2 linked regions of the Homo sapiens genome follow. The protein of the gene in region 1 purifies or fractionates together with the protein of each later gene. This does not show direct contact. Each region holds a gene or a part of one and is shown on either strand. Other genes may lie near its edges.

Region 1 (3,827 bases):
TTAGGTCAATTAATAACCCTACAATGGCCTCTCAGTGTTCAAGTGAAAGGAAGGGTTGCATGTCTCTCACTTTAAATCAAAAGCTAGAAATGATTCAGCTTAGTGAGGAATGCATATCAAAAGCTGCAGTAGGCCAAAAACTAGGCTTCTTGTGCCAAATGACCAAGTTGTGAATGCAAAGGGAATGTTCTTGAAGGAAATTTATGTACTACTCCAGTGAACAACCAATGATAAGAAAGTGAAACAGCCCCATTGCTGATATGAAGAAAGTTTTAGTGGTCAGAATAGATCAACATTCTCCAGTTACCACATTCCCTTAAGCTGAAGCCTAATACAAAACAAAGCCTTAACTCTCTTCAATTCTGTGAAAGCCGAGAGAGGTGAGGAAGCTGCAGAATAAAAGTCTGAAGTTTGCAGAGTTTGGTTCATGAGGTTTAAGGAAAGAAGCCATCTCTATAACATAAAAGTGCAAAGTGAAGGAGCAAGTGCTGACGTAGACGCTGCAGCAAGTCATTCAGAGGATCTAGCAAAGATAACTGATCAAGGTGGCTACAGCAAATGGCAGATTTTCAACGAAAATGAAACCACCTTCTGTTGGAAGAAGACACCATCTGGGAGTTTCATAGCTAGAGAGGATAAGTCAGTGCCTGGCTTCACAGGACAGACTGATTCTCTTGTTAGTGACTAATGCAGCTGGTGACTTTAAGTTGAAGCCAGGGCTCATTTACCCATTCTGAAAATCTTAGAGCTCTTAGGAAATTATGCTAAATTGACTCTGCTTGTGCTAGTAAAAATGGAACAACAAAGCCTAGAAGACAGCACATCTGCTTATTGCATGGTTTACTGAATATTTTAAGAACACTGTTGAAATCTGCTGCTCAGAAAAAAAAAAAGATTCCTTTCAAAATTTTACTGCTCATTGACATTAGACCTAGTCATCCAAGAGCTCTGGTGGAGATGTAAAGAGATTAATGTTTTCATGCCTGCTACCACAATATTCATTCTGTAGCCCATGGATCAAGGAGTAATTTCAACTTTCAAGTCTTATTATTTAAGAAATATGTTTTATAAGGCTATAGCTGTCATAAATGGTGATTCTTCTTATGAATCTAAGCAAAGTAAATGGAAAACCTGAAAAGGATTCACCATTCTAGATGCCATTAAGAACATACATAATTCATTGGAGGAGGTCAGAATATCAACATTAAAGGTTGTTTGCAAGGATTAGATTCCAGCTCTCATGAATGACTTTGAGCAGTTCAAGACTTCAGTGGAAGAAGTAATAGAAGAGAACTAGAATTAGAAATGGAACCTGAAAATGTGCTGCAGTCTCACAATAAAACTTGAATGGGTAAGGAGTTGCTTCTTATGGGTGAGAAAATAAACTAGTTGCTTGAGATGGAACCTACTCCTAGTGAAGATGCTGTGAACACTGGTGAAATGACAAAGGACTAAGAATATTTCATAAACTTGGTAAAGTAGCAGCAGGGTTTGAAAGGATTGACTTAAATTTCAAAAGAAGTTCTGTGAGTAAAATGTTATCAAACAGTATCACATGCTACAGAGAAATTCTTCATGAGAGGAAGAGTCAGTCAGTGTGTCAAACTTCATTGTTTGATTTTAAGAAATTGCCACAGCAACTGCAGGCTTCAGCAACCATGACCCTGATAGTCAGCAGCCAGTAACATCAAGACAGGATCTTCCACCAGCATGGGAATGTAAACTAGTACAACCACTATGGGAAAAAATATGTGGAAATTCCTTAATGAACTAAAAGTAGAACTACCATTTGAAAATTCTAACAATCCCACTACTGGATATCTACCCAGAGGAAAAGAAGTCATACGAAAAGGATAACTTGCACACACATGTTTATAACAGCACAATTTGCAATTGCAAAAATGTGGAACCAGCCCAAATGCCCATCAATCAACAAGTGAATAAGGAAACTGTAGTATATATATGTGTGTATATATATGATGGAATACTACTCAGCCATAAAAAGGAATGAGTTGATGGCATTCGCAGCAACCTGGATGGGATTGGAGACTGTTATTCCAAGTGAAGCAACTCAGGAATGGAAAACCAAACACATGTTCTCACTCATAAATGGGAGCTGAGCTATAAGGATGCAAAGGCATAAGAATGACACAAGGGACTTTGGGGACTTGGGGGCAGAAGGGTGGGAAGGAGGTGAGGGATAAAAGACTACAAATTGGGTTCGGTGTATACTACTCGGGTGATGGGTCCACCAAAATCTCACAAGTCACCACTAAAGAACTTACTCGTGTGACCAAATACCACCTGTTCCCCAAAAACCTACGGAAATAAAAACATTTTTTAAAAAAGATCTTTCGCCAGCAAAAAGATTGTTAAGTCACTGAAGACTCAGGTGATCATTCGTATTTTTAGCAATAAAATATTTTTATATTAAGGTATGTTCATTTTTAAAACAATGCTACTGCACACTTAATATAGTCATAACTTTAGAGTACATAACATTTATATGCACTGGGAAACCAAAATATTTGTGTGACACTTTATTTCAATACTTGCTTTAGTGTGGCAGTCTGGAACTGAACCCACAGCATCTCCAAGATATGTTTATATTCCCTATCTGGCTAGGGAGATAGCAGTTGCACATTTTAATGAATGCTTTTTCTGCATGTCATATGATTTTTATCTTTTGTTCATGTGGCCATTAATTTACTTTTTGAGACAGAGTCTCACTCCATCACCCAGGCTAGAGTGCAGTGGCATGATCTCAGCTTGCTATAGCCTCTGCCTACCAGGCTCAAGTGATTCTCGTGCCTCAGCCTCCTGAGTAGCTGGAATTATAGGTGCACGTCACACGCCCAGCTAATTTTTGTATTTTTATTAGAGACAAGGTTTTGCCATGTTGGCCAGGCCCATCTCAAACTCCTGATCTCAAGTGGTCTGCCCACCTTAGCCTCCCAAAGTGCTGGGATTACAGGCGTGAGCCACTGTGCCGGCCTCATGTGGTACTTTACTAGTGTTAAACGAACCTTGTCTTCCAGGAACAAACCCAGTGTGGTCACTATATATTTTACATATAATATACCGAGTTTGGTTTGTTACTATTTTGTTTTAGGACTTTTCCATTTATGTTAAAGACAGATTATCTAATTTTATTATCAAGTTTATTTTGCCATTATAAAATGGGTTTGGGAATAGATTTTAAGATTTTGAATTTGATTCTTTTTTATGGCTCTACAGAAATTACTAATATTGCCTTTAATTTCCCTAAACATAATAAGCCTAGTTATTTTAAAAGTGTTATGTTGGATAATCCTCTTATCGGGATCTTCTTTTTGGAGTTGATTTTATAGTCTGTTGGTTATGGTGATGTTCAGTCAAGCTAACAGAATCTCTTCATATGTCTAGTTATTTTCGAGTGCTAAACAGTGTATATGAAATCTTGTTATTTCTCTCCAAAGAAGATTTATGATTGTGTCTGTCAGAAAGCTGGAGTCACTAGCATCTCAGATTACCCTAATGCATTTTCATGGATTGAGGTGGTTTTAAATTGGGTTTCAGACATCACAAAAGTTAATTTGTAGTTGGCCTTTACTAGAAAAGGGGGAAGGATGGACAGGTAATCACCAAAGGATTATTAGTAAAATTTACAGTTGACTTCACAGCATAAACAATGGAAGCCAGAAGACAATGGAATATTTTTTTAATTATAAATTTTTATGTAAGTAATATTGCAATAAAATATTTAGTTCTTACCAGCTCTGAGTTTATTGGAAACTCTGTTCTGTTTCTCAGCCTCTAAATCTCCTCTTCCAGAATTGGTAACGCCC
Region 2 (3,827 bases), on another chromosome or scaffold:
AGTCTCGACCTCCGTGGGCACAGGTGATTCTTCCACCTCAGCCTCCTTGGTAGCTGGGACTACAGGTGCGCACCACCACAGCCAGCTAATTTTTGTATGTTTTGTAGAGACAAGGCTTTGCCATGTTGCCCAGGCTGCTCTCGAACTCCTGGGGCTCAAGTGTTCTGCCCACCTTGGCCCTCCCAGAGTGCTGGGATTACAGTGGTAAGCCACTGTGCCTGGCTGAGCCATTAACAGTTGTTTAAAAGTGGAAAAACGCAGTCTTAAATGAATTATGGGAAAGCACTGAGTGTCCAAAGGGAGAATACTACACTGCTTATATCACATCAAATGTATTAATATTTTGTTTAGATCTTTTTATTTTTGTTTTAAACGTTGCATCTAATGTTCCCACCCCTAAACCTCTTAAATGTTTATAATCTAGAAAAATACATAGAATGCACTAAATATTTCAGGTATTTTGCTAAATTAGTAGTTTTCATCCAAGCCCTTAAAAGTTTTAATTGCTGAATGAATCAAGTTTTTTAAAGGAGAGATGTATATATTTTACCTAAAAAAAAGTGTTTGTTCATATCAGGCAGAAATGGAACTTTCCTATGTCATACCCATAAAAGTGCCGACCTGATGTCTTTAAGATTGGCAGCTTATATTGACAATCCATGTATGTCAGTTGAAGGTGTCATGGTTTAAAATTGCTTCGCCAGTAACTTGATTTCACTTTTATAGGGTGGTTCTTTTACTTATTTGGTTGCTACACTAGTACTTTAAAAATTGATGGTCAGTTGTTGAGGAGGAAATAAAATATTTGATGGCCACACCATCTTAAAAATACTTTAAAAAAATTGGAGGCTGGGCTCGATGGCGCATACTTGTAATCCCAGCGCTTTGGGGGAACAAGGCAGGAGGATGGCTTGAGGCCAGGAATTTGAGAAGAGCCTGGCACAACTTCGTGAGACCCCTGTCTCTACGATTAAAAAAAAAAAAGAAGAATATTTGAACATAAAGGTTAAGGTATTAGAGGAAAACAGATTGTAAAACTACAGGGTTGAACAAGAAAAAAGTCATAAAAAAGTGAATTTGACTATGTAAAAATTTAAAATTTCTGCAGGACAAATGATACTATAAAGGCAAAAGACAAACCGAGAAAATAATTGCAATATACATTACTAAGGGTATAAGAAAGGCTCACAGAATTGATGGGAAAAAATAAAACCCACTAGAAAAATGGTCAAAGGATGTATCCTCCCAGTTCAGAGGTAAGGAATACAAATGGCCCATCAACAGAAAGTTGCTGAGGAACTATTTACCTTTTCACCCATCAGATTAGCAACAGTTGGTAACATTGGTGAATGTGTAGCGAAGTAGACTTTCTCATAAAGTGTTTTGGGAGTGAAAATTACAACTTTTTGGGGAACAGATTTTGGCTTCTATCAGATTTAAACTAATATCCTTTGACGAGCAGTCTAGCAGATTAAGCAGGAATACATGTATCAGATTGTTGATTGTGGCGTCACTTATCATATGAAGAACTGGGAAAAGCTTGAACCCATCAGTAAGGATCTGGTCGAATGAGTGGAGATGCTTCCCATGTGTGGCTGTTGGAGAGGATGAATTAGACTTGGGTGTGTTGGCCTGGAGCATGCCTTGATGGGTTATGTGAACACTATATGTGGAGTATTGTGTAGAGTATGACTCTGTCTTCTACAAATTAAAATGCATGAGTCCATGTGCATGAGCATTAAGGAAAGTGGAAAGGATACACTAAACTCATACTGTGGTTGGGGGGTGTGGCGGAACCTGTCCCCCCTTTTTTCTGATAATACCTCTGTGGTGTTTGGAAAACACCTGGATTTATTTTATAGTTGAAAAAATTGAGGTATAAAAAACAATTTAGCCAAAATATTTTAACATCCTTTTTTAACTTTATTGGATACAGCAACCTTTAACCTGAATATGATCAACCCAAGGGTATTTTTCTCAGCATAGTATATAACTTCCAGTAGACTTAGCTCCAGAATGTAGATAACTGAGGAAAAAAAAAAGTTCTAGATGAGATTAACTATGATTAATGGACATTTTTAGTCTTGTATTCTTATTAGGGTTCTAATATTTTTAAGATTAGGGGAGGGGCCTCTTCCAGATTTTTAGGTCAGGGTCACACTTTGTCCAATGATTGCAGCCCCCAATGCTTTGAATTTCAGTTTATTCAAAATAGAATGTAAGGGCCTGGAGCAGTGGGTCACATCTGTAATCCCAGCACTTTGGGATGCTGAGGCAGGAAGATTGCTTGAGTACAGTAGTTCGTGACCAACCTGGGCAACATAGTGAGACCCCGTCTCTACAAAAAGTTAAAAAATTAGCTGGGCATGGTGGTGTATGCCTGTAGTTTCAGCTACTCGGGAATCTGACGAGGGAGGATTGCTTGAGCCCAGAAGGTTGGGGCTGCAGTGAGCTGTGATCACACCACTGCACTCCAACCTGGCTCACAGAGCGAGACTCTTGTCTCAATTTAAAAAAAAAAAAATCTAAGGTTTTGACTAATCAGTAGTTTCCTTATGTATCTATGACCTATAGATTTTTTTTTAAAGAATCCACATACAGACTTCTAAGTTAGATTCTTTTGATGATGCAAAAATTATTTCCAGAGATTTTATAAAATCTCAGGATTATCATCATAGGATTGTTGTAAGGGTAAAATGAGTTGATGTTTATGAAGTTTCTGGAAGGGTGCCCATGTATGGAGGCAGCATAGTACCTCACTAAAAGCACGGACTGCATGGCTTTGAATCCCCACTCCACTCCTTACTGGCTCTGTGATCTTGAACAGGTAATTGACCTCAGTGCCTCAGTTTTTTCATCGGTAAATAATAATAGTACCTATCTCATAAGAATTAAATGAGAAGATGTGTGGAGCTCTTAGAATAGTGCCTGACAGGCAGGCAGTATTATCATTTTTAGAAGCCATTCCCAGTTGTGGCCAGCAAAATGTAGGATGGTCTCATTGTGTTTAATTGAAATACCTCTCATAGTATTCCAGAGTGAGAAAGAAGGTGATAGGCAGTTCTCTGGGGATGGGGCTCAGTTTGGGGCACCATCTGACTGAATTGTAGCCAGAGGAGAGGCGGCCAGGCTAGTATTAATACTAAGCTGTAAGTTGCATTGTGAGGAATGCTTACAAGAACTGAAAATATATTTATTACCTGGGTAAAAGAAGACTTCCTCCCTTGTACAGTGGCAGTGGAAAGACCTGATTTAGATGGGCAAGTTAATTCAAAAGTTAAAATATGACCTGGTACAAGCGGAAGGGTTGTTTGCTCTTCATGTTGGGCTGTTACCTGTAAATGTCCCCTCCCTTGTCCTAAGACATCTGGCTCTGTGACACCACTGAATGCAGCGTGATTGTCTGGAACATCTCATGTGGTTTTTGAGTCTGTCCGGAGAACGGGCGTTGTGATTGTTAGACCCAATGTTTGGGCAAAAGTGACCTACTTCGGGATATTAGGAATTCTTGTAAGTGGATTAATACATTGAGTAATGGTTATCCTAAATACTTTTTTTGGGTGCTGGGGACAGAGTCTGGTTTTGTCCCCCAGGCTGGAGTGCAGTGGCGCTATCTCAGCTCACCGCAACCTCCGCCTCCCAGGTTCAAGCAGTTTTCCTGCTTCAGCCTCCCAAGTAGCTGGGGCTACAGGCACCCGCCACCATGCCTAGCTAATTTTTGTATTTCTGGAGAGACAGGGTTTCACCATGTTGGTCAGGCTCATCTTGAACTGCTGACCTCAGTCCTGACCTTGACCTCCCAAAGTGCTGGGATTATAGGTGTGAGC

What was found.
Region 2: the proteins of MAEL (region 1) and ILKAP purify together in Homo sapiens (affinity purification with western blotting, with the first as the bait; one study listed by BioGRID). This does not show direct contact.

Annotation. Positions count from the first base shown.
Region 1 is NC_000001.11:166,999,085-167,002,911, forward strand, and holds part of MAEL (protein maelstrom homolog), read left to right. Parts: intron 1-3,827. UniProt on the Homo sapiens protein: Plays a central role during spermatogenesis by repressing transposable elements and preventing their mobilization, which is essential for the germline integrity.
Region 2 is NC_000002.12:238,196,935-238,200,761, reverse strand, and holds part of ILKAP (integrin-linked kinase-associated serine/threonine phosphatase 2C), read left to right. Parts: intron 1-3,827. UniProt on the Homo sapiens protein: Protein phosphatase that may play a role in regulation of cell cycle progression via dephosphorylation of its substrates whose appropriate phosphorylation states might be crucial for cell proliferation.